Regions from separate parts of the Homo sapiens genome. Here region 1 is linked to region 2. The links come from fine-mapping of genetic effects on gene expression. Tissue or cell type: esophagus mucosa. Region 2 holds a variant in brackets; the other region holds the start of a gene. All regions are shown on one strand. Distances are between the middles of the regions.

What was found. PIP is the estimated chance that this variant, and not a neighbour inherited with it, causes the effect.
Region 1: MN1 starts here. The variant in region 2 is fine-mapped to the expression of MN1 in esophagus mucosa (GTEx, PIP 0.97).

Annotation. Positions count from the first base shown.
Region 1 is chr22:27,796,766-27,804,765 of GRCh38, reverse strand. It overlaps MN1 (MN1 proto-oncogene, transcriptional regulator), which reads left to right and starts at 3,010. Exons shown (of 2, transcript NM_002430.3): 1 at 3,010-8,000. The coding sequence starts at 4,223. RefSeq lists enhancers at 1-36, 37-601, 4,944-5,489, 5,490-6,036.
Region 2 is chr22:27,832,249-27,840,250 of GRCh38, reverse strand. No RefSeq gene overlaps it. Among named protein-coding and RNA genes, the nearest start is that of MN1, 34 kb to the right of the region's middle. The variant A/G (reference allele first, on the strand shown) is at 4,736.

The DNA of each region.
Region 1 (8,000 bases), 35 kb after region 2:
GTGAGGCACACGCCCTCACACTCGCAGAAAAAACAGATACACTGGAGCAGAGATACAGGCATGCAAGGGGTGAGGCAGCTGCACACACACAGGTACAAACGCAGTGGCTCACACACACAGAAATGCGGGGTTGGGGGACAGACAGAGAACATGCACCAAGACCCCCAAAGATCCATGCACGAACGCCGACGCAGGCATGGACAGAAACACACGCAGATGCCCCGCCACCCGCATACAAGCAAAGGCACAAAATGCAGACGTGTGCCACACACCCGCACAACATTTGCAGTGTTAAAGAAAGGTGACCGAGACACACATCCTGAACAGAAACTTCACCAGGTCCAAACACTCCCTTCTTTCAGCCACTCACACACCTTGTGGAGCTAACTCTTGGAAACAGCCCCAGAAAAATACTCCCACACCCCCCCTCCCTGGAGCACACGGAATTATTCCACAGGAAACCTGCCCAGGTGTGCTGGAGACCCCCACCCAGCCCTGTGTGAAGTCATGCCTCAGCTCTGCAGACGCCCCCATCCGGGTCTCCCCAGACGACAGGCCTGTGAGCCATTCTTCCCACTCTCCTGGCCCACCCCCAGGCTCCAGACAGGTCCCCACTTTTCCCTATTTCCTCCAGACACAGAAACACAGGCGGCTCATAGGTGCCTCAGGAGACACCCATAGTCGAGAGCAGACTGAGTGTGTGACCCAGTATCTTGGACTATGCCCAGGCCTTTGCCCATGTGGGGGCCTCTTCCTCACAACCAGGTTTTCCTATTGCCTCCCGCTTTTTGTCCAGGAGGTTCAAGATCCCCCCTGCTCTGTCTCGGGAGCCCCAGAGCCCCAGGGTCCTAGGCCCCGGGGCGGGCGGGGGGGGGGTGTCACTGGAGGGCCTACCCAAGCCTTTATTTCTTTGTGCCTAAATCAGCAAAGCCTCAGTCTTTTCTCTGGCTCTCACTTCCCTGTCACTTTGCTAAGTAATAATTTCCATGTCCAATTCCATTTCTTTTCTAGTTCTGAAACCTCTAAGCTATCAGCAAGAGGATAGTTCACATGAAAACTAATTACACAAAATCAATATTTAATCACAGACCAACAACCTGATCCTGCAGAAAAATCCTTTAAAAACTCCACCGCCCTGTACAAATACTTATTCCCTATGCTTATTTATGGACCCCATTTTTGATGGGGGTAATTTTCATTTTTAATTTCAAAAAAGAAAAAATATATATGTCTGTAAACTTCCACAACAGGAAGGCCCCGGGAAAGGTCTTGGATCTGAGCTTGCTCTGGCTGAGTTTTAAAGTTGTTGTTTTTTCTTGTTTGTTTATTTTTAATTAAAATTTTTTTTGGGCGGGGGGCAATTTCTTAGGAATTCTGCCGCTACCCCAAAGTTGAGCCCATTTCCCCCCACCCCCGGCATGTCGGTTCTGGCATACTTAGCACTGCCTTCCTAGCCGCAACTCAGGGGAGCAATGAATCTGCGCGTACGACATGGTAACTTTTTAACTCCTGCCCGCGACGGTGGAGTGCTTAATCTAAGGTTTTTAAATAAAAAGGGCTCAGGGGTTGGTTTTATTATAACGTTTATTTCATTTCAGATTTCATGCGTAATTTAGCAAACGCTAGACAGACTCGGGCGATAAACACTTTCTTTTGTGGGGGGGGAAAGGCATTTTCATACACCACGCTTAATTTTATTTAGATTTAATAGCGATATCAGGGGCACTTCAAAGAAAGTTCTTTTTTCGCCCTTCTCCTAAGAATGCGAATCTGCTAGCAAAATCGCCTCGTGCTATTTTATGGCAAGGAAAATTAAAGGCCTTCTCCCCCCTCCTTCCCTACACACACTTTAGGGAGGAACACACACACACACACACACGCATGCACAAACACACGCACGCAGGCGCGAGCACACGCACACAGGCGCACAGAATAAACACCTCTATCCTCCATCACCTCTAACTTCCAACTTCTAATTGCAAGATAGATTTCAGCCTCTGTGGGGATCAGGACGATCTAAACATTTTAACTAAGATTATTGGGATAAATATTTCATAAAGAGCAGGGCAGATATTAAATTACTCCTATTGATTTTAGTATCACAGCCCAATTCCATTCCTCGGCCTCTTCAGTTTAATTGATCTCTTAAGGAGGCCAACTTCGCACCCGCAGAGGGTCTGGGTCTTGGACCGGGTGGCCCAGGGCAAGGTGTGCGGCCCGGCGGGTGCGCCCTCTTCGTGCGTGTCTTCTCGGGGTTCCCAGCCGCCTCGCAAGTCGCTCCGGTTACTGGGCTCAACCGATGTGCTCCCCCATAAAGTGGCTGAGTGACTGTGACTCCTTGGAGCCCACGCCGGCCGGTGAGAACCGGGAACCCCAGGCAGTGGGGAAGGGGAACAATTGTGAACGCCCTAGTGACGGAGGAGTGAGCAAGCGCCCAGGTCTCTCGAGGAGAACCCTAACTTCGAGGTTCCCCGTCTGCTTTACCCTCCAAGAAAATCCCAGGGCCGGCTAACTTGGGCGCCGCTAGCGGAGAACGGAGTGTTCACCCCGGAGCCGAAGTGCAGTAGACACTTAGCGACTTTCCGTGGCGAGTCTAGGGTCTTTGCCTGGCGACCTCATTGTCTGAGCGCCCCGTACCGCTCACCGCCCACCTCCCCGCCCCCTGCCCACCCGGTGGGTCTCGCTCCAGTTGGGGGTGGGGAGTTGGGAACAGTGTGAATGGGAAGGGGGTGAACAAAGCCAAGCTCCCGCCATTCTCCTCCGCCTGCACCCTCTCCAGCTCGATGCGCCCGGAGGCCGGGGCGCGCCCCCAGCGCACTGACGCCGGACCCCGAGGAGAGGCGGGCGCAGGGGACCCCAGAGCTGGGGTAGTGCGGGTTCGTGGCGGGGGCTTCGGCAGCCAGGACCCCGGACCACCTTAAGAGCGAGCCCCGCCCCGAGCCCGGAACTTGGGCGGCGCTGATTGGTGCAAATGTAATGGCTGAAATTGATTGCTGAAATGCAAAACTTGTTGCTGCTTCTCCCGGCGCTGGGCGAGAGGCAGACACAGAGAGGGGAGCCGAGACCCTCGGAACGCCCCACGCAGAGCCCCCCCGCTAGTCGGGAGAGGGGTGCGCAGACCCCCCAGAGCTGCCCCCGCGCCCCCCTCCCCCCATTCCGGGCTCTGAGAGCGCAGCGGGAACGCCTTAGCCTGCTCGCCCGGCGTGGCCCCCCGACCCGCGTACGCCCCCCTCCCTCAGGTCCGAGAGGGACTCGCGAAGCACCTCAGCGCGGAGGCAGGGAACCGGAGCCTTGGAGCGACCCAACCCCTCGTCTCGCTGCCCTCCCGCGCCTGCAACGGTGCGCGGAGACTCCGGCGAACTCAGACACCCAACGGCGGAGAACAGAAGCGGCAGGCGGCGGACGTGGCCGCGAAGCTGCGCGCCGAACGCAGCGCACCCGCTGCCGAGCAGAGGAGCCGCGCCTTTCCCCGACCCTCGGCTCCAGCCCCCGGCGCCTGCCGCCTCGCAGCCCCTCTGCGTCCTCGGCTCGGGGGCCGGCACCGGCGATGCCGAGCGGAGCCTCCAGTCCTCCGACCCGCTGAAGAAGCAGCAGCCGCTCGCCCGGAGCCTACGGGGATTGTGCGAGCGGATCGTGCTCGGTGGAGGCTCGGGCTGCGGGGCGCGGGGACTCCGGGGGGCGGGGGGAGGGACCGCTCTGTCGGTGCCCGGCGCCAGCCGCGGCTTTGAAGGGTCTCCCTCCCCTGCCCTTAGCAGCTCTGCCACGGACTCCGGGAGGCTGCGGGCGGCGTCCTGAGGGCTCCCCAGCAGACCCAATCGGACTTGAGAAGGTGATCGCTCTGCTCTCCCAACCCCCTTCCCTCCCCATTCCCCCCACTTAACTTTTTGTCTCCGTTCATCCGCGGCTTCGTCCCCTCCCCGCAGACCCACCCGCGGCTGTGACAACCGCCCGGGGCATGGGCCCCCCAACACGGCTCCTAGAGGCCCCGCGGCCTCGCAAGATGTGAGAGGCCCTCCCCGGGCAGAATCGGAGCTTCAGGAGAGGAGCTAATACCCCGCCCCCCGTCCCTCACATCAGGCGGGGTGGAGGTGCGCGCTGAGCCCCCGCGGTGCTGAGCGTCCCGGAGCGCCCAATCCTGGGCTGGAACGAGTAGCTGGCCGGAGGCGCGCCGCGGAGAGCCGGCTGTCATGCCCTATTGATCCCCCTCTGCCCCCCGCCAAGTATGTTTGGGCTGGACCAATTCGAGCCCCAGGTCAACAGCAGGAACGCTGGCCAGGGCGAGAGGAACTTTAACGAGACCGGACTGAGCATGAACACCCACTTTAAGGCCCCGGCTTTCCACACTGGGGGGCCCCCTGGCCCTGTGGATCCTGCTATGAGCGCGCTGGGCGAACCCCCGATCTTGGGCATGAACATGGAGCCCTACGGCTTCCACGCGCGCGGCCACTCGGAGTTGCACGCAGGGGGGCTGCAAGCGCAGCCTGTGCACGGCTTCTTTGGCGGCCAGCAGCCTCACCACGGCCACCCGGGAAGTCATCATCCCCACCAGCATCACCCCCACTTTGGGGGCAACTTCGGTGGCCCGGACCCCGGGGCCTCGTGCCTGCACGGGGGTCGCCTGCTCGGCTACGGCGGCGCAGCCGGAGGCCTGGGCAGCCAGCCGCCCTTCGCCGAGGGCTATGAGCACATGGCGGAGAGCCAGGGGCCTGAGAGCTTCGGCCCGCAGCGACCGGGGAACCTCCCGGACTTCCACAGTTCAGGTGCCTCCAGCCACGCCGTGCCGGCCCCATGCCTGCCGCTGGACCAGAGCCCTAACCGAGCCGCCTCCTTCCACGGCCTGCCGTCCTCCAGCGGCTCCGATTCCCACAGTCTGGAGCCACGGAGGGTGACGAACCAAGGAGCCGTCGACTCGCTGGAATACAATTACCCGGGCGAGGCGCCCTCGGGACATTTTGACATGTTTTCGCCCTCTGACTCCGAAGGGCAGCTGCCTCATTATGCAGCGGGTCGCCAGGTTCCTGGGGGCGCTTTCCCGGGCGCCTCGGCCATGCCCAGAGCTGCGGGCATGGTGGGCTTGTCCAAAATGCACGCCCAGCCACCGCAGCAGCAGCCCCAGCAGCAGCAGCAGCCCCAGCAGCAGCAGCAGCAGCATGGTGTGTTCTTTGAGAGGTTCAGTGGGGCCAGAAAGATGCCTGTGGGTCTGGAGCCCTCAGTGGGCTCCAGGCACCCGTTAATGCAGCCTCCCCAGCAGGCCCCGCCACCCCCTCAGCAGCAGCCCCCGCAGCAGCCGCCACAGCAGCAGCCGCCGCCGCCACCCGGGCTTCTAGTCCGACAAAATTCGTGCCCGCCTGCGCTCCCTCGGCCCCAGCAGGGCGAGGCGGGCACGCCCAGCGGCGGCCTGCAGGACGGAGGCCCCATGCTGCCCAGCCAGCACGCGCAATTCGAGTATCCCATCCACCGGCTGGAGAACCGGAGCATGCACCCTTATTCCGAGCCTGTTTTCAGCATGCAGCATCCTCCTCCGCAGCAGGCGCCCAACCAGCGGCTGCAGCATTTCGACGCGCCCCCCTACATGAACGTGGCCAAGAGGCCGCGCTTCGACTTTCCGGGCAGCGCGGGAGTGGACCGCTGCGCTTCGTGGAACGGCAGCATGCACAACGGCGCTCTGGATAATCACCTCTCCCCTTCCGCCTACCCAGGCCTACCCGGCGAGTTCACACCGCCTGTGCCCGACAGCTTCCCTTCGGGGCCGCCCCTGCAGCATCCGGCCCCGGACCACCAGTCCCTGCAACAGCAGCAGCAGCAGCAGCAGCAGCAGCAACAGCAGCAGCAGCAGCAGCAACAGCAACAGCAACAGCAGCAGCAGCAGCAGCGCCAAAACGCGGCCCTCATGATTAAGCAGATGGCGTCGCGGAATCAGCAGCAGCGGCTGCGCCAGCCCAACCTGGCTCAGCTAGGCCACCCCGGGGACGTGGGCCAGGGCGGCCTGGTGCATGGCGGCCCGGTGGGCGGCTTGGCCCAGCCGAACTTTGAGCGCGAAGGCGGCAGCACGGGCGCCGGGCGTCTGGGCACCTTCGAGCAGCAGGCGCCGCACTTGGCGCAAGAGAGCGCGTGGTTCTCAGGTCCGCATCCGCCGCCCGGAGACCTGCTGCCCCGTAGGATGGGCGGCTCGGGTCTGCCCGCTGACTGTGGCCCGCACGACCCCAGCCTGGCGCCCCCTCCTCCGCCTGGTGGCTCGGGGGTGCTGTTCCGGGGCCCTCTGCAGGAGCCGATGAGGATGCCCGGAGAGGGCCACGTGCCCGCGCTGCCTTCACCGGGCCTGCAGTTCGGGGGCAGTCTGGGAGGCCTGGGTCAGCTGCAGTCGCCCGGGGCGGGCGTGGGGCTCCCCAGCGCTGCTTCGGAGCGCCGGCCCCCGCCGCCGGACTTTGCTACGTCTGCGCTCGGGGGCCAGCCGGGCTTTCCGTTTGGTGCAGCCGGCCGGCAGTCCACGCCGCACAGCGGTCCAGGCGTGAACTCGCCCCCCAGCGCGGGAGGGGGCGGTGGCAGCTCTGGTGGCGGCGGTGGCGGGGGTGCCTACCCGCCGCAGCCTGATTTCCAGCCCAGCCAGCGCACCTCGGCCAGTAAATTGGGCGCGCTCTCGCTGGGCTCCTTCAACAAGCCCAGCTCCAAGGACAACCTGTTCGGCCAGAGCTGCCTGGCTGCGCTCTCCACCGCTTGCCAGAACATGATCGCCAGCCTCGGGGCCCCCAACCTCAACGTGACCTTCAACAAGAAGAACCCGCCAGAGGGCAAGAGGAAACTGAGCCAGAACGAGACCGACGGCGCGGCAGTGGCCGGCAACCCGGGCTCGGATTACTTCCCAGGAGGGACTGCTCCTGGGGCCCCAGGACCCGGAGGCCCGTCCGGGACCAGTAGCAGCGGCTCCAAAGCCTCGGGGCCGCCCAACCCTCCAGCCCAGGGGGACGGCACCAGCCTCTCCCCCAACTACACCCTGGAATCCACGTCGGGGAATGACGGCAAGCCGGTCTCCGGGGGCGGCGGCCGGGGACGGGGTCGCAGAAAAAGGGACAGTGGTCACGTGAGCCCTGGCACCTTCTTTGACAAGTACTCGGCGGCTCCGGACAGCGGGGGCGCACCTGGGGTGAGCCCAGGGCAGCAGCAAGCGTCAGGCGCAGCCGTCGGGGGAAGCTCCGCAGGCGAGACGCGCGGGGCACCGACGCCCCACGAAAAGGCGCTCACGTCGCCATCCTGGGGGAAGGGGGCTGAGTTGCTCCTGGGGGATCAGCCGGACCTCATTGGGTCCCTGGACGGCGGGGCCAAGTCGGACAGTAGTTCGCCAAACGTGGGTGAGTTCGCCTCGGACGAGGTGAGCACGAGCTACGCCAATGAGGACGAGGTGTCGTCCAGCTCTGACAACCCCCAGGCACTAGTTAAAGCGAGCAGGAGTCCCCTGGTGACCGGCTCGCCCAAACTCCCTCCCCGTGGGGTAGGCGCCGGGGAACACGGACCGAAGGCGCCCCCGCCCGCCCTCGGCCTGGGCATCATGTCTAACTCTACCTCGACCCCTGACAGCTACGGCGGCGGTGGGGGCCCGGGCCATCCGGGCACTCCGGGCCTGGAGCAGGTCCGCACCCCGACGAGCAGCAGCGGCGCCCCGCCACCCGACGAGATCCACCCCCTGGAGATCCTTCAGGCGCAGATCCAGCTACAGAGGCAGCAGTTCAGCATCTCCGAGGACCAGCCTCTGGGGCTGAAGGGTGGCAAGAAGGGTGAGTGCGCCGTCGGGGCCTCAGGGGCGCAGAATGGCGACAGCGAGCTGGGCAGCTGCTGCTCCGAGGCGGTCAAGAGCGCCATGAGCACCATTGACCTGGACTCGCTGATGGCAGAGCACAGCGCTGCCTGGTACATGCCCGCTGACAAGGCCCTGGTGGACAGCGCGGACGACGACAAGACGTTGGCGCCCTGGGAGAAGGCCAAACCCCAGAACCCCAACAGCAAAG
Region 2 (8,002 bases):
TCACATCCCTCCTCTGCTCAGAGCTGTCCCATGCAACTCATAGTGAAGTGCAGATTCCTTCCTGTGGCCCTTACAAGTGTCATCCTTTCCCCATCTTCCAGTCCTTCTCCCCACTCCAGCCACACCGGCTGTCCAACACACCAAGCAGGTCCCCTTAGCCTTTGCACTGGCTGTTCCCGCTGCTAACACTCTTCCACCAGATCTCCTCCTCGCAGCTCCCTCCCTTACCTCACATAGGTACCCAAATGCTCCTCTGCAGGGGGCCTCCCTGGACCACTGTTTAGGCCCTGTTCCCATTTCTCATAGCTCTTAATTCTTCACGGCACTTATCTCTACGGGCAGTGTGTGTGTGTGTGCGCGCGTGCGTGTGTGTGTTGCTTGTCTCCCCACTGGACTAGAAGTTCCATGAGAGCCTGGTTTGCACTGTCCTCAGTGGCTGGAACCAGGCTTGGTCCATCCTAGGTGCTCAGTCAGCTTTTGCAAATGAGAAACTCCACCGTCTCTCTTGTGTTAAAATAGGCCAGCAACTCTCAGTGAACCACACAGTAGTTGCAAAGATCACATAAAGCTGAACAGGGCTGTCCAAATGTAATGATGGCCATTAGCGTCTCTCCACCTCAGAGCAGCGATTCTGGAGCATTCTGTGTAATTGGAGCACAATTAAGCATATGGCAGTGTTTCCACTGGGCCGGAGATCTGATTCCGAGCTTTCGCAACACGGTTTCTTTCTTGTTCCCAGTAACATCAAATCCGGATCCACCGTCAGGCGGGCTCTGTGGTCTGGATCACAGGAGAATACTGGGGAAAGAGAATCCTGCTAAAAGGATTTAATCTCAAGACATTGGGCCACATATTCAGGGATGATTTCTTGGATTTTGCAAGCAATGTAAATAACAGCAAGAGGATTCCCGCTGTGTGACGTGAGGTGCATCCTGCCGGGCTGGGACAGGAAGCTGCCCAGGCTGGGCTGCTATGGATGCACCAGGCAGGGGCCCCCGATGCAACTGATGCAACTGGCAGAGCTGCACCCCACTCCTCCCTGTCTCACCCATGCCATACCACCCACTGGCCTCACTCACTCTTCCAGGAGTGCCAGACACTGTGCAAAGCATTCTCTGGGTGGCAAGGGTTTAAAGGCCAATAACAGAGATGAGGATTAAGATGCCAGTTATCACCCAATTCAGTCATGGAGTGAGATTTCTTTCACTTATGTACAAATCATGGCTCCCTGGCTGAACTGTGAGCTTCCTGGGGGTGAAGTCTGCATTTGAAGCAGCCAGCCTGTGGCAACTTGGAAGTCATCTGTGGCATCTCATTTTTATAGATGAGACCATGAAAGGAGGAAGTGAAGCGTCTAGTGGGTCAGGTTTGGAAACAACTTAGATGTTCATCTGTGGGGAAATGGATAGATATAATAACGGATACTGGGTGGGCACAGGGGCTCACGTCTGTAATCCCAGCACTTTGGGAGGCGAAGGCAGGAGGATCGCTTGAGGCCAGGAGTTTGAGACCAGCCTCGGCAACAGAGTGAGACCCCCGTCTTTATAAAAACTAAAAAACAAGATTCTCCAGGTGTGGTAGTGCATCTGTAGTCCCCCCTACTTGGGAGGCTGAAGTGGGAGGATCACTTGAGCCCAGGAGTTCGAGGTTATAGTGAGCTATGATCATGCCACTATACTCCAGCCTGGGCAGCAAAGCAAGAACCTGTCTCTTAAACTTTTTTTTTTTTAAAGGGATATTTGTAAAATGGATTATTATACAGCAATGAAAAGGAGTGAGTTATCACCACACTTACCAGCAAGGATGAATCTTAAAAATTAATATTGACCAAGAAAAGAAAGTTGCAAAGGAGCCACAGTTGGTAATATCATATATGTTCATTTTAAAAACCATTTACCCACGGCAGTTCTTGGATATATACATGTGTGTATATAAAAGGGTGGCAGATAGCCTGGAAGAACAAAACTATGTTGAATACAGGATGGCCCATGTCTGTGGCTATGGGGAGGGGAGTTGACTGGGTTTGAGGGGCTGTCTAGACCAATGATGATATTGAGCCTCTCACAAACAAGTGTCCTTGAGGGAATCAATTCATTCCTGTGTCCCTGCCAATTAAAATAAGTGAGTAAGTTTCCCAGTGTCTCCCAGTCTGCAATGAACACAGCCTGAGCCAGGGGCCCATGACTCCCAATCTGCCTCCCCAATGGGTCTTCAAAAAACACCTGTCCAATTCATGAGACTTCTGCATTCATAAAATCAACATACTAGGAAAGCTTTCTTAGCCAACAAAAAATTCTCTTTTGAATCCTGAATACAAAAGTCTACCCCTGAGTGCATTCTCCCATCTGCCTGGAGATCCTGTGTGTTCTTTGGTTTATGTGAAACATCACTGTGTCTGCTTGTTTTTGCTGTTATGTCTTCTTGTTCTTGCTAAGGGAGGCTGATTCAGCCTTAGCACATCCCCTCCTTCTTAAGAGGCCCCCTTTGTTCTTCCATGATCAAACTTCTTTGGTTTTTTTTTATTTCCTTCTCTCCATCCAATCCCACTTAACTTGAACATCATCTCTGTGCCATGACCTCTGCTGGGTGGGATCCAGATGGCAGTGCAAGATAGTTCTTCCCCTCAAGGGACTTAAAATTCAGTACTCCCCTCCCCCAGGCCTAGCAACAGGGTAAGGCAGGGTCAGCGTGAAGAAACAGGGATCTCCAAAGGGAGGTCTATTCAGAGAAGTAACTTTCTTTCTGTCTTCTCTTTCTTCTCTTTCTCTCTTTCTTTTCCTTCCTTCCTTCCTTCCTTCCTTCCTTCCTTCCTTCCTCTCTTTCTCTTTCCTTCCCTCCATCCTTCCTTCCTTTCTTTCTCTTTCTTTCTTTCTTTCTTTCTTTCTTTCTTTCTTTCTTTCTTTCTTTCTCTTTCTTTCTCTCTTTTTTCTTTCATTCCTTCTTTCTTCTTTCTCTCTTTTTCTTTCTTTCTTTCCTTCTTTCTTCTGTCTCTTTCTCTCTCTCCTTCTTTCTTTTTTTTTTGAGACAGGGTCTCACTCTGTCACGCAGGATGAGTGCAGCAGTGCAGTCACGGCTCACTGCGGCCTCAACCTCATGGGCTCAAGCAATCCTCCCACTTCAGCCTCCCAAGTGCCTGGGACCACAGGCATATGCAACCATGCCGGCTACTTTTTAAATTTTTTAAAAATTAATTTAAAATTTAAAATTAATTTATTGGCCGGGCGCAGTGGCTCACGCCTATAATCCCAGCACTTTGGGAGGCCGAGGCGTGTGGATCACGAGGTCAGGAGATAGAGACCATCCTGACCAACATGGTGAAACTCCGTTTTTACTAAAAATATAAAAATTAGCCGGGCGTGGTGGCGCGTGCCTGTAATCCCAGCTACTCAGGAGGCTGAGGCAGGAGAATTGCTCAAACCAGGGAGTCAGAAGTTGCAGTGAGCCAAGATCGCACCACAGCATTCCAGCCTGGCGACAGAGCGAGACTCCGTCTCAAAAAATATATATATATATAATAATAAATAATGTATTATTATTTTTTTAAAGACACAGGGCCTCACTATGTTGCCCAGGCTGGTCTCAAACTCCCAGATTCAAGCAATCTCTCGCCTTGGCCTCCCAAAGTGCATGCCTGGCCCAGGAGCTTTCATAAAGACCATCAACAACCAGGCCTGTGCGCAGAGGAGGGTGGGCCGAAGCGGGAGGGAAGTGGAAACTGAGTTGATGAGCAATGGTGGAAGGGCCTGGAAAGCAACATTCCGTTTCAGAGAGAGGGGAGCGCTCTGCCTGTCTGCAGCCCTCAAGGATCCAGTCATGCGGGTTTGGGGGAAGGAGGGCCCCAGCTGGAGTCCACACGGGTTGAGACAATTAGGGGGATAATTTGGGCTGAGTCATCTTGGTGGAGGCCGGGACGAGGGTGTTGGGTGGGTGTGGGCCCCATCAGCATAATTGCTCCAGACTTCTGGTTCTCTTTGGCACAGCACTGAAATAAGTTAATCCACCGCTTGAAAAGTGTTGATTCTCCTCCTGTAACTTAGCATGAACAGCAAAGTCTGCCTGAACCTGACACCAGGGTGACCTAGTGAGGGTCCTGTCCCGGGGGCGGGAAGCAGGGATCAAAGGGGGAAAACAGGCCAGTGCTATTCCTGCCCCAAGCCTCAATAACGCCTTAATCTGGAAAATGGGAACAAGACCATATCCCATCAATTCTAAGAAGTGCTTTTCTTCCCTCATTTTAACATCTCTAAAATTGTGATGTGGTTTACAACTGGCAGTGTCTTAGATTTGGTGAACTATGATGATAAGAAGAGAAAAATAGAAGAATAGCTACCAATCGCTACCAAGCACAGAATGCTTACTCTGTGTCAGGCACTGTGTCTGTGAACTTTACAATGTAACCCTCTCATCAACCCTAGGAGACAGGGTTTCATTTTATGGATGGCAAAGCCAGGGTTCCAAGGGGGATTCACATGCTCATACTGGTCACAATCAGTATGTAGGGAATGCAAAATATGCTGAAGCGTTTGCTTTCGTTTTTGTCTTTTTGAGACAGGGTCTGCCTCTGTCATCCAGGCTGGAGTGTAGTGGTGTGATCACAGCTCACTGTTGCCTCAACCCCATGGGATCAAGTGATTTTCCCACCTCAGCCTCCCGAGTAGCTGGGACCACAGGCACGTACCACCATGCTCGGCTAGTTTTGTTTATTGTTTGTAGTCTCATTGTGTTGCCAAGGCTG[A/G]TCTCAAATTCCTGGGCTCAAGTGATCCTCCCACCTCAGCCTCCAAAGTGTTGATATTACAGGCGTGAGCCACCACACATGGCCCCGTGAGGTGGTGTTGATGCTTATACATGTACATGTAGTTTGAAAAGATTGCATATTTAAGTATTCAGTGTGGTGCCTCACGCATAGTAGGCGTTTGATTGTTCTGCCCTTCCAGGCTGCCTCTTTTCAGATGGTAGCACTGCCAGGCATAGGATGGAGGCTGTAGAAATGTTTGCTGCCTGGCAGACTGGAAGGACGGATGAACTTCCCCTAATCAATGCCCCATTCACATGTCTCGGCTCCCTGCAGGTCATCTGCGGAGAGATAGCCCCTGTGCTCTTGGCCGGGTGACTGGACAGGCTGGCTAGAAGGGCTGGAGAGTTAACACCCCCAGCCCCACCTCAGGAGCAGCCCTCAGCCAGAGAGGGATGGGCACTGGTGGGTAAATACCCCAGCTCCCTCGCCCCTCTGTTGGGGCAGCTGCAGCATAGTGTGCACAGTTTCCCAGAGGTCCCCAGCAGGACTGCGCCCGCTTCCCACAGTGGTCAGCCACTCCCTAATGCATCCTTCGCTGGTTTCCTCCTCTCTCACTTCCCCACTCCCGACCCTACTCCTGGAATTACCTGGCAGACAAGGGGCTCACCCCGAGATCCTTGCCCGAGGGTCTTCTTTTGGGGGAACCCAGACTGAGGCAGTAGTGAAGTGGGGTTCAACCTGATGGCGCCAGCCAAGGTAGTGGCAGGTGTCAAAGGATTGGCTGATGATAAAGGGGACCTACAGGATGAAGAGGGGGGCCAGGCCCTCAGATGACTCACAGAAAGATGCTCCCAGTCACCGGGAGAGTTCTTAGTTCTGTGGCTGGAGATTGTTAAGCCTGGGGATCTGCCGAGGCGGCAGGTCAGTGGCCAGACGAGGAACCGCAGGTGAATTCATCACTCATGTCTGTGTGCAGAGTGGGGCTGGCTTCTGCCCGAGGCCCCGAGAGACACCTCAAAGTTGCTGCAACTGTGGTCCTGGGGAAACAGCGCTGGCTTGCTTGGAGTCAGACCCACCTGGGTTTAGATTCCAGCCCCGCAGCTTCTGGGCTCTGTGGGTCGCATCTCCTTCTGAGCCTCACTTTTCTTGTCTGTGCAAGAGTCTCCACATCACAGGTTGCTGAAAGGACTCGTTGCAATAAGATGTGTAAGTGCTTCGTACAGAGCCGGGCACATGGTAAACCCTCACCACGGAGGCTGGGTGTGCAGGCTGAGAGTCAGTTGCTGGGTTCAGGAACTTTCAATGTCTCTCTGAGTTTCCATTTTCTTTCACCTGTAAAATGGGAAGTGGGGGCAAATATCCTCACCATGAAAGCACTGTAAAGATTTAGAGGTTATGTACAAGAGGCTCAGAGGCAGTGTGCAGTGGCCATGTGGCGATGTTGGAACCACTGGTATGAGGAGTTAATAAAAATGTATTTTATCCCCAACATTCACTATACTCCTGCCACACTGGCCTATTTTGTTCCCACCACAGGGCCTTTGCATGTGCTGTTTCTGCTGCCTGCAAGCCCTCCAGAACCCTGACGTCCAAATGGCATCTCATAACCTTCCTTCCCATTGTTCCAACTATACAGCTTCATGTGCTTGTTGGAGGTGGCCTCTCCCTTTAGCTTGAGCCCCAAGAAGGCAGGGGCCATGGCTTTTTGGTTTGTGAAAGCTTCCCTACCTCTGCATGCAGATTCTAGCATACAATCAATGCCCAATGAATGTTTGTTGAGTGAATGTCTGAATAGGAGGCTTGTGTCTTCAGGAAACTCCTGAACATATGGCTCAAATGTAAAGAATTTTGGGCTGGGGTGGGTGAGGGAAGAGAGTTGTGTTTGTTTCAGCTGTTTAGTCCAGGCTGGAGGAAAGGGGCATGTTTGTGGGGCCTGATGAGCCTGTGTTCGGAGCCCAGCTGTGGCTCTTGCAAGCTCAGCGATGCTGCCCACCTATGGAGCCTCAGGCTCTTCATCTGTAAAACAGGGAGAATAACATGCACCTTAGCGAGTTGTCAGGGAGAGGAGATAAGTATTAGATTGGTGCAAAAGTATTGTGGTTTGATTGGTGCAAAAGTAATCACAGCTGGGCACAGTGGCTTAGGTCTGTAATCCCGGCACTTTGGGAGGCCGAGGCGGGCAGATCACCTGAGGTCGGGAGTTCGAGACCAGCCTGACCAACATGGAGAAACCCTGTCTCTACTAAAAATACAAAATTAGCCGGGTGTGGTGGTGCACGCCTGTAATCCCAGCTACTCGGGAGGCTGAGGCGGGAGAATCGAATCGCTTGAACCCGGGAGGCGGTTTTGGTGAGCCAAGATCGTGCCATTGCACTCCAGCCTGGGCAACAAGAGTGAGACTCCATCTCAAAAAAAAAAGTAATCGCTGTTTCTGTCATTGACAGTAATGGCAAAAACCGCAATTACTTTTGCACCACCTAATACATGGCTCAGCAAAGCCAGCTGTATCTGCAGATAGGTTATGTCTTCTACTTTTCTTCAAAGAAGGGGCTGTTTACCTGGCCTTGATGCTCTAGAATTCTCCACAGACCCCAGAGCCTGGAGCCCAGGGATGTACTGTGGTCATGAGGCCGTCACCTATTGCAAAGTTATAATTGCCAGGTCAGATTTAATAGCATCCTGGAGAGCAGATCGCCACGCCGGGTGGCTCCACACATCACTCTGTTGGCTCGCCTGGCAGGGTTGCCCTGGTGGGTGCAAGGGGTCTTTGTTCCCGAGATTCATGCAAAGGTCAGGCTGTGGTAGCATGAATGTTTCCAGGCAATTCTTGTCTATCGGGGAGGCATCTCTGGCCATGTCTCCTTCTTGGTCTGTGATAGGGAGAATTGAGACCAAGTCTCCAAGTGGGGACAATGAGGGCACAGGGACGGTCATCGAGAAGAAGACAAGGCTCTCGGGGCAAGGGTTTTGCCTTCAGCTCTCAGAAGGGCTGCAGAACTTGCAGGCCCAGGTAGGGGATGACAAACAGGATCATAAAGGGGCTCAGAGTCAACTGCCAGGTTTGTCCCAGCAGCCACTATGTGCAAATGGCTTCAGTTCTCTGGGCGTCAATTTCCTCCTCTCTAAAATGGGAATAATGGTACATAGAAAATGAGGAGATACAATTGTAAATAAGCTTTTTAAAACAGCCTAAGGTGCAGCCACTCTGACCGCACAGCTATTTCCTCTCCTGCTTATTTCCACCCCCTCCTGTCTGTGCACATTCAG